Linked DNA regions of Homo sapiens. The protein of the gene in region 1 interacts with the protein of each later gene in a pairwise test. Each region holds a gene or a part of one and is shown on either strand. Other genes may lie near its edges. The genes, in order: SYPL2 and ATP13A1.

Region 1 (3,810 bases):
ACCCTGCCCAGACATGGTGACCATGTATTCCCAAGTGTCTCCAGGGCCCTTTAGGTCACAACTGCAATATATGTAGTTCTTCTCTTTCTGGTAGCCAAACCACTAGGCAGATCAGCTTCATTCTGCCTCTGGAAAGTGCAGGCCCAGAGTGGCCAAGATAAGGTTGGAATCACCCATTCTCAGGCTTTATTGGGCTTTCCAATGAGACAGTGGACAAATTAAAGAGAAAAACACAGCCTATTATATATGAGACAGTTAATATAACTTGGGTGCTGATACTAGAAATTTCTGAAAAGGTGAGCCTCATCCCCATTTTCCCCTGAACACCTGGGCTCCCTACTTCCTAAGCTCTCAAATACCCAGAAAAGAGATCACTTCTACCTCCCTGTCAAGGTGTGCCCACTTGTATCCTGGTCGTACTGGCTGAGGATCCCACATCAACTCTTTAGGATGTAAGTACTAATAAGCTTCCCTACCTTCAAGGCAGAGAGGAGGCTACTGAGGGTCAGAGAGACCTGTCCAGCTTGTCCAGGTTCCTGTAAGCCTCCATCCCAAACTGCATTGGCTCTTTCTGTATGAGCTGGTGTGACCTGCCATGGGTTGTCCATGGACTGGAACATTATTATAACAGTGATCAATCTGTATTTCCCTTACGTTTTGCTCTGGTCAATGTGTCTGAAATTGCTAAAAAGCAGAAAGGATCTAAGTTTTGTCATTCTATTTGAATCTGGAGTGGCACGCAATGAATGGTTTTTAGGTTTCTGGAGGAGGAAGAGACCAAGCAGGTCCTGCCAGTCAAGTGAGAGATGATGTGCTGGGTTGGAACCAATTCTTGCTCACCTGAAGGGATAGCCAAATGCAACGATGATGGAGCTCACGTCCTTGGCTTCGTTGTTGCAGCGAACCATTGCTCCTGTCTCCCCGCTGTAGGAGCCACAGGACCCGAAGGCGAAAATAGCAAAGAGCTGAGAGAGAGTGAAGCCTCTTTGAGAGTCAGAAGGCCTCAACTGGCCAAAGTCGAGAACTAACCGTGACTCCCCGCAGGTGCAGACATTAAGTGCGGGAGTGGGGGAGAGTGAGGATCCCCTTTAATCAAGTTCTTCCTAGGTAGAAACCCATGGCTTCCATTTATCTTCCAGCCTCAGGCTGCTGGACCAAATAGCCAAATGAATACAAGGTTGACTGAGTGGTGTCTGCAAGGGAGATGAAGAGGCAGGAAATGGACAGTTGCCAGATCTCTCCATTGGGCATGACTTGGGGACCACAGGTAGCCTCCTTAAGATGACTAACACAAAACCTCTGCAATTCAGGCTTTAGGAAACTTCTAGCTTACAGATAGACTTGAATTTCCTTCCCAAGGGAGAGACACACTCAAAAAGATTCCCCTGCATCAACCTAGATCAGACATGCCTAGAACGCTTTTCATTTCTCCTTTGAACTAGTCATCTAATCTTGTTTCCTAGTTGCTAACTTCCAGTGGCTTCCTGCCTTGGTGGAGGTATAGCTGGAGGGGCCAGCTTCTACCAAGCCACCCCAGATGGGCCATACTACTGTCCCATAGTACTGACAGCCTAATTCCTCTTCCCCAAAAGGCACATGGCCTTCTAGCAATAGTGCTGGCTGGGCCAATGTGACAATCTTGGCTCAAGCCCAGAGAAAAGTACCCTCCACTTGCCTTATCAGTCTCCACTGTTTCCCCACTGGTATTTCCCTTTGTCATCTGTTGATGCTGCCATTTCTCAGTGTTAAGATCCAGAGGTGTCTCAGGTCACTCGAATTGTTTTCTTCTCCACCTTTCCTCACATTTTACTACACCTTCTCTCTCAAGTGAAATAAAATTTCCTCATCCTATGATTTTCAGATTTCTTTCTGGGAAACACACTTTGGTTAGAAAAGGAGGTGAGAGGCCAGGTGCGGTGGCTCACACCTGTAATCCCAGCACTTTGGGAGGCTGAGGCGGGTGGATCATTTGAGGTCAGGAGTTTGAGACCAACCTGGCCAACATGGTGAAACCCCATATCTACTAAAAATACAAAAATCAGCCTGGCGGTAGAGTGTCGCATGCCTGTAATCTCAGCTACTTGGGAGGCTGAGGCAGGAGAATCACTTGAACCCGGGAGGCGGAGGTTGCAGTGAGCCGAGATCGTGCCACTGCACTCCAGCCTGGCAACAGAATGAGACCTTGTCCCTCTCCCGCCCACCGCCAAAAAAAAAAAAAAAAAGAAAAGAAAAGAAAAGAAAAAAGAAAAGGAGGTGAGAAATTGAAATGTCTTATCCTCCACATCATCTGCTCAGATTGGATTTCCTGTGCACTTACCTTTGACTTGTACACAATGTCATGTTCTTATTAAGCAATGAGCTTATTCTCTTAATTGTTCACTCTCTGTATCTTTCTTCGAGACTCAGTGTCTTGGACATTAAGCACTTGGAAGACAGCTGATCTGTATGTCAGCCCTGCATCCAGAGTCTAGAATAGAAGCTATATGCACTTTATTTTGCCAATGCTTGTTAGCATTATGGAGTGAAAGGAGACCTGAACTAGGAGTATGGAAACCTAGGTTCCAGACCTGGTCCTGTCACTAATTAGCCAGGTGAGCTCTGATAAGTCACTCTGCTCTCTGAGTCTGTTTCCTCATCTTTTTTTTTTTTTTTAGATGGAGTCTTGCTCTGTCGCCCAGGCTGGAGTGTAGTGGCGCAATCTTGGCTCACTGCAAGCTGCACCTCCTGCGTTCACACCATTCTCCTGCCTCAGCCTGTTGAGTAGCTGGGACTATAGGCGCCCACCACCATGCCCAGCTAATTTTTTGTATTTTTTTTAGTAGAGACGGGTTTTCACCGTGTTAGCCAGGATGGTCTCGGTCTCCTGACCTTGTGATCCGCCCGCCTCAACCTCCCAAAGTGCTGGGATTATAGGCATGAGCCCAGCCTGTTTCCTCATCTTAAATGGAGGGGTTTGGAGTAGATAATCTAGAGGCCCTTTCCAGCCCTGGAACTCTCTCACTCTCTGAGAGTAACACTGTCAGTGTACTCTTGACTGGGCTTGCCAACAGCTGTGCTTTGCCCCTGCGAGGTGTCCAGTGCCACTGCCCCCGGCTTGCAGCGCCTGGCCTTGCAGATCTCCATGCTGGAGCCATTGGCCTCTCTCCAAATAATGGGCACCTCTCTGTTTTCAGGAGGTTTATTCCAGACAAATGAGAATTGTCTCCATGTTTAAAGATATCTGGGAAAGAAGACAGTAAAACCTCCCTCCAATGCCTAAATACCCTCCTCTCCTGAATTAAATGATGAAGACTGCAGTAGAGCCCTGTCTGCCCGCCTTCTTCACAGAGGTAGAGAAGAGTCACTCGAAGCCTCTGCATCATTACCCTTTACTTACTCAAAGTGGCCTCACCATTGTAATAGTGGAACTTCTCTAACTCTTCCTCATAGGAATTCGCTAATCTTTTGTCAGTTCTGTGGCCATCTGATTCCTCTTAGAAGTTTCTTTATTCCTCTTAGCTTCTGGTGCCCAGAACTGGATGTGATTAGGGTGTCACATTCTGGGAAGGGCAGCACAGTTGGAAATATTTTTACCCGTTGGCAGTTAGTCAGTGAATGGCTCCTTATAGGTTCCTTAAGAAAGCAGGGGCCGGGCATGGTGGCTCACAGCTGTAATCCCAGCAGTTTGGGAGGCCAAGCAGGAGAATGGCTTGAGCCCAGGAATTTGAGACTAGCAACATATAGGCAACATAGCAAGACCCTCCCCTACAGAAACTACAAACAAAAAATTAGCTGGGCATGGTGGTGCCTGCTAATAGTCCCAGTTACTCA
Region 2 (3,810 bases), on another chromosome or scaffold:
AGGATGGGGCCTGGTCTCTTGCAGGGCCGAGATGGTGGTGCCTGACTTCTCGGAGCTTTTCAAGGAGAGAGCCACAGCCCCCTTCTTTGTATTTCAGGTAAAGCAGCAGCTCTGGCCCATCTCCCCATTTCCTCCCTTGGGGCTTTCCTAACCGGATCAAGCCTGCCCACCACTTCTAAACCTGGAAGCCTCTCCCCACCCTCACATATCAGATCCGGTGGGTGGAAGGGGCTCATGGGAACAGGGCGGGTAGGGCAAGGACAGACAGGCTGGTATCCCACAGGTGTTCTGTGTGGGGCTCTGGTGCCTGGATGAGTACTGGTACTACAGCGTCTTTACGCTATCCATGCTGGTGGCGTTCGAGGCCTCGCTGGTGCAGCAGCAGATGCGGAACATGTCGGAGATCCGGAAGATGGGCAACAAGCCCCACATGATCCAGGTGTGGCTGCCAGGGAGACCCAGGTTGGGGGTGCAGCACAGGTGCGGCTTCTGTGCTGACACCCATGCCCCGCCCAGGTCTACCGAAGCCGCAAGTGGAGGCCCATTGCCAGTGATGAGATCGTACCAGGGGACATCGTCTCCATCGGTGAGGCCGGGTTCCGCTCAGTCCCAGTGGGAGCCCCAGCCTCAGGGCCTCTGGCCAACCCTCCTGCCTCTGCCCTGCAGGCCGCTCCCCACAGGAGAACCTGGTGCCATGTGACGTGCTTCTGCTGCGAGGCCGCTGCATCGTAGACGAGGCCATGCTCACGGGGGAGTCCGTGCCACAGATGAAGGTACTTGGTGGAGGATGGGGATCCTCAAGCTGTTCAGGAGGAAACAGGCCAGGAGGTGGAGGCCCAGGGGGTGGCGGGGATCCCCCTCAGGCACAGGCGGAGGAGGCAGTGTGGGCACAGATGAGCTCTGTGGACTGGGGAGCCGGGTGGTGGGGGCGAGGAAGGAGGTGAGAGAGCCAAGGGCATCCAGGGTACATTGGTGCCCTGGGATGTCAGACCAAGGTGGGCTGGGAGCAGTCCAGAGGGGTGAGTCCCAGACGAGGCCAAGTGCAGGCCCCAGAGAGCAGGCACTGTGAGTGCAATGGGGAGAAGACAGGACGGGGTGAGGGTGAGGATCTGGGAGCTGGGTGGGATGTATTGGTCGGGTGGGGATCCCCCTGGCTCATTCCAGCCTCAAGGTCCAGCTGTCCAGGAACTCAGATGGAGAAGGAAGCAAGGTAGGCCTGGCCATCCAGATTCACGATCTTCCTCCCCAGGAGCCCATCGAAGACCTCAGCCCAGACCGGGTGCTGGACCTCCAGGCTGATTCCCGGCTGCACGTCATCTTCGGGGGCACCAAGGTGGTGCAGCACATCCCCCCACAGAAAGCCACCACGGGCCTGAAGCGTAGGTGCCTCATGGGCGTCTGGGGGTATCTGGGCTTCCACCCCCTTTGCCCGTCTGCTTGATCATGAGGGAGTCAGGACGAGGAGACAGGCATGACGGTGACTCTGCTTCTCTCCCCAGCGGTTGACAGCGGGTGCGTGGCCTACGTCCTGCGGACCGGATTCAACACATCCCAGGTGCGGGGCCAGGTCTGGGGAGGGCGGGCCCCAGGGCAGTTGGACAGCCAAGGTATCAGCCCTTTCCGACCCCAGAACATCTGCCCCACGGGCTGACTCTGGCAGCACGGCCCTGGACCTGGGCCAGGGTGCAGAGGCCACCCCAAGACCAGGCCCACGCTTCCAGGCCTGAGCTGCTGGAGGGAGTCCAGACAGCAGAAAGGCTGTTCCTCCATTCCTCCAGGGCAAGCTGCTGCGCACCATCCTCTTCGGGGTCAAGAGGGTGACTGCGAACAACCTGGAGACCTTCATCTTCATCCTCTTCCTCCTGGTGTTTGCCATCGCTGCAGCTGCCTATGTATGGATTGAAGGTAAGCGCCACGGCCTCTGTGGTCCCCTGCGCCCACCCTCCGAGGCTCCAGGTTGGCAGGCCCTGTCTCCACAGGTACCAAGGACCCCAGCCGGAACCGCTACAAGCTGTTTCTGGAGTGCACCCTGATCCTCACCTCGGTCGTGCCTCCTGAGCTGCCCATCGAGCTGTCCCTGGCCGTCAACACCTCCCTCATCGCCCTGGCCAAGCTCTGTGAGTGTGTCAAATGGGATGGGGTGCCGAGTGGGCTGGGGCCAAGCAGGACCCCTGACCTCACTCCCGCCCCTAGACATGTACTGCACAGAGCCCTTCCGGATCCCCTTTGCTGGCAAGGTCGAGGTGTGCTGCTTTGACAAGACGGGGACGTTGACCAGTGACAGCCTGGTGGTGCGCGGTGTGGCCGGGCTGAGGTAAGCATCAGGGGCCCTGCAGCAAAGGTCACCCAGATGGGGTTTCTGGGAAGTCGAGAGACAGGTGGCCCATCCACCCCAAGCCCTTGCAGTGAGGGCCCGTCAGAGGCCCTGCCTCGGGTTCATTTCCAGGGGCTCCCCACAAAGTCCTGGGTGTCAGCCATGGTAGCGGCACGGGGGCTCAGCTCAGGCCTGGAACATCCCACACCAGCCATGCACCACATGACCCCCAGGCACAATGCCTGGCTTCTGGGGGCATCTGTGAAGCAGGTGCAGGTCTCATAAAGACCCAGTTGGCGCCCAAGCCACCCCAGTGACAAGCACGGAATGAATGGCCTTGGGGGTCCTTCTGCTGGTGGGGATGCAGCTTCGCCCTACCCGCCTGCACTCTGTAACCAGCTGTTCCCCGACCTTGCAGAGACGGGAAGGAGGTGACCCCAGTGTCCAGCATCCCTGTAGAAACACACCGGGCCCTGGCCTCGTGCCACTCGCTCATGCAGCTGGACGACGGCACCCTCGTGGGTGACCCTCTAGAGAAGGCCATGCTGACGGCCGTGGACTGGACGCTGACCAAAGGTGAGGGGCTGGGGCCTCAGGCCCAGCAAGGGGGAGCCACTGGCTCTCACAGCCCTAGGCAGGTGGGCTGCACCCCTCAGAGCATCTTGGGGACAGGCAGGCCTACAGCTCTGATGCTCCCCGAGGTGGGTGGCCAGAGGCTCACTTTAGACCCAGGATAGGCCACGTCCTTGGGTGTCCCTCTGGGTTGGAATCTGCCCTGCCCTGGCCGAAGCCACAGTGCCAGGGTCCTCCAAGCCCAGGTCTTCCAGCTCTGGACCAACACCTGCTCTAGCCCAGAGCCCCGATCAGGCCCTGGGGGAGGCAGGAGGGAGGTGGGGGAGGCCGGGGTGAGAGGTAGGGGCTTGGCTGCCTCTTTGGAGCAAAGCCCCTCAGGACTCGTACTTATTTGTTTCCAGATGAGAAAGTATTCCCCCGAAGTATTAAAACTCAGGGGCTGAAAATTCACCAGCGCTTTCATTTTGCCAGTGCCCTGAAGCGAATGTCCGTGCTTGCCTCGTATGAGAAGCTGGGCTCCACCGACCTCTGCTACATCGCGGCCGTGAAGGGGGCCCCCGAAACTCTGCACTCCATGGTGAGCTGGCCCCAGCCTGGGGCAAGGGGTGGGGGCGCGGGGCAGCCCGTGACATCCCCCTGCATTCCCTGCAGTTCTCCCAGTGCCCGCCCGACTACCACCACATCCACACCGAGATCTCCCGGGAAGGAGCCCGCGTCCTGGCGCTGGGGTACAAGGAGCTGGGACACCTCACTCACCAGCAGGTACGGGCCCAGGCTCCCCCTGCCTTCACCATGTGCCTGGCCCGTCAGCTCCTCCCTGAGTCACCTCCTGTGTCCCACAGTGCCAGGTTGAATGGTTGTGATTTTGTCCTCCTTGCCCCGCCTCCAGCTTCTACCTTTGGAGACTCCAAATGGCACTCAGT

The links.
Region 2: the proteins of SYPL2 (region 1) and ATP13A1 interact in binary tests that used the Homo sapiens proteins (3 or more experiments, as listed by UniProt).

What each region holds. Positions count from the first base shown.
Region 1 is NC_000001.11:109,472,736-109,476,545, reverse strand, and holds part of SYPL2 (synaptophysin-like protein 2), read right to left. Parts: intron 966-3,810; coding exon 841-965; intron 1-840.
Region 2 is NC_000019.10:19,653,623-19,657,432, reverse strand, and holds part of ATP13A1 (endoplasmic reticulum transmembrane helix translocase), read left to right. Parts: intron 1-24; coding exon 25-97; intron 98-283; coding exon 284-439; intron 440-516; coding exon 517-586; intron 587-666; coding exon 667-773; intron 774-1,249; coding exon 1,250-1,379; intron 1,380-1,499; coding exon 1,500-1,555; intron 1,556-1,778; coding exon 1,779-1,905; intron 1,906-1,979; coding exon 1,980-2,117; intron 2,118-2,193; coding exon 2,194-2,314; intron 2,315-2,732; coding exon 2,733-2,890; intron 2,891-3,288; coding exon 3,289-3,464; intron 3,465-3,538; coding exon 3,539-3,649; intron 3,650-3,810. UniProt on the Homo sapiens protein: Endoplasmic reticulum translocase required to remove mitochondrial transmembrane proteins mistargeted to the endoplasmic reticulum.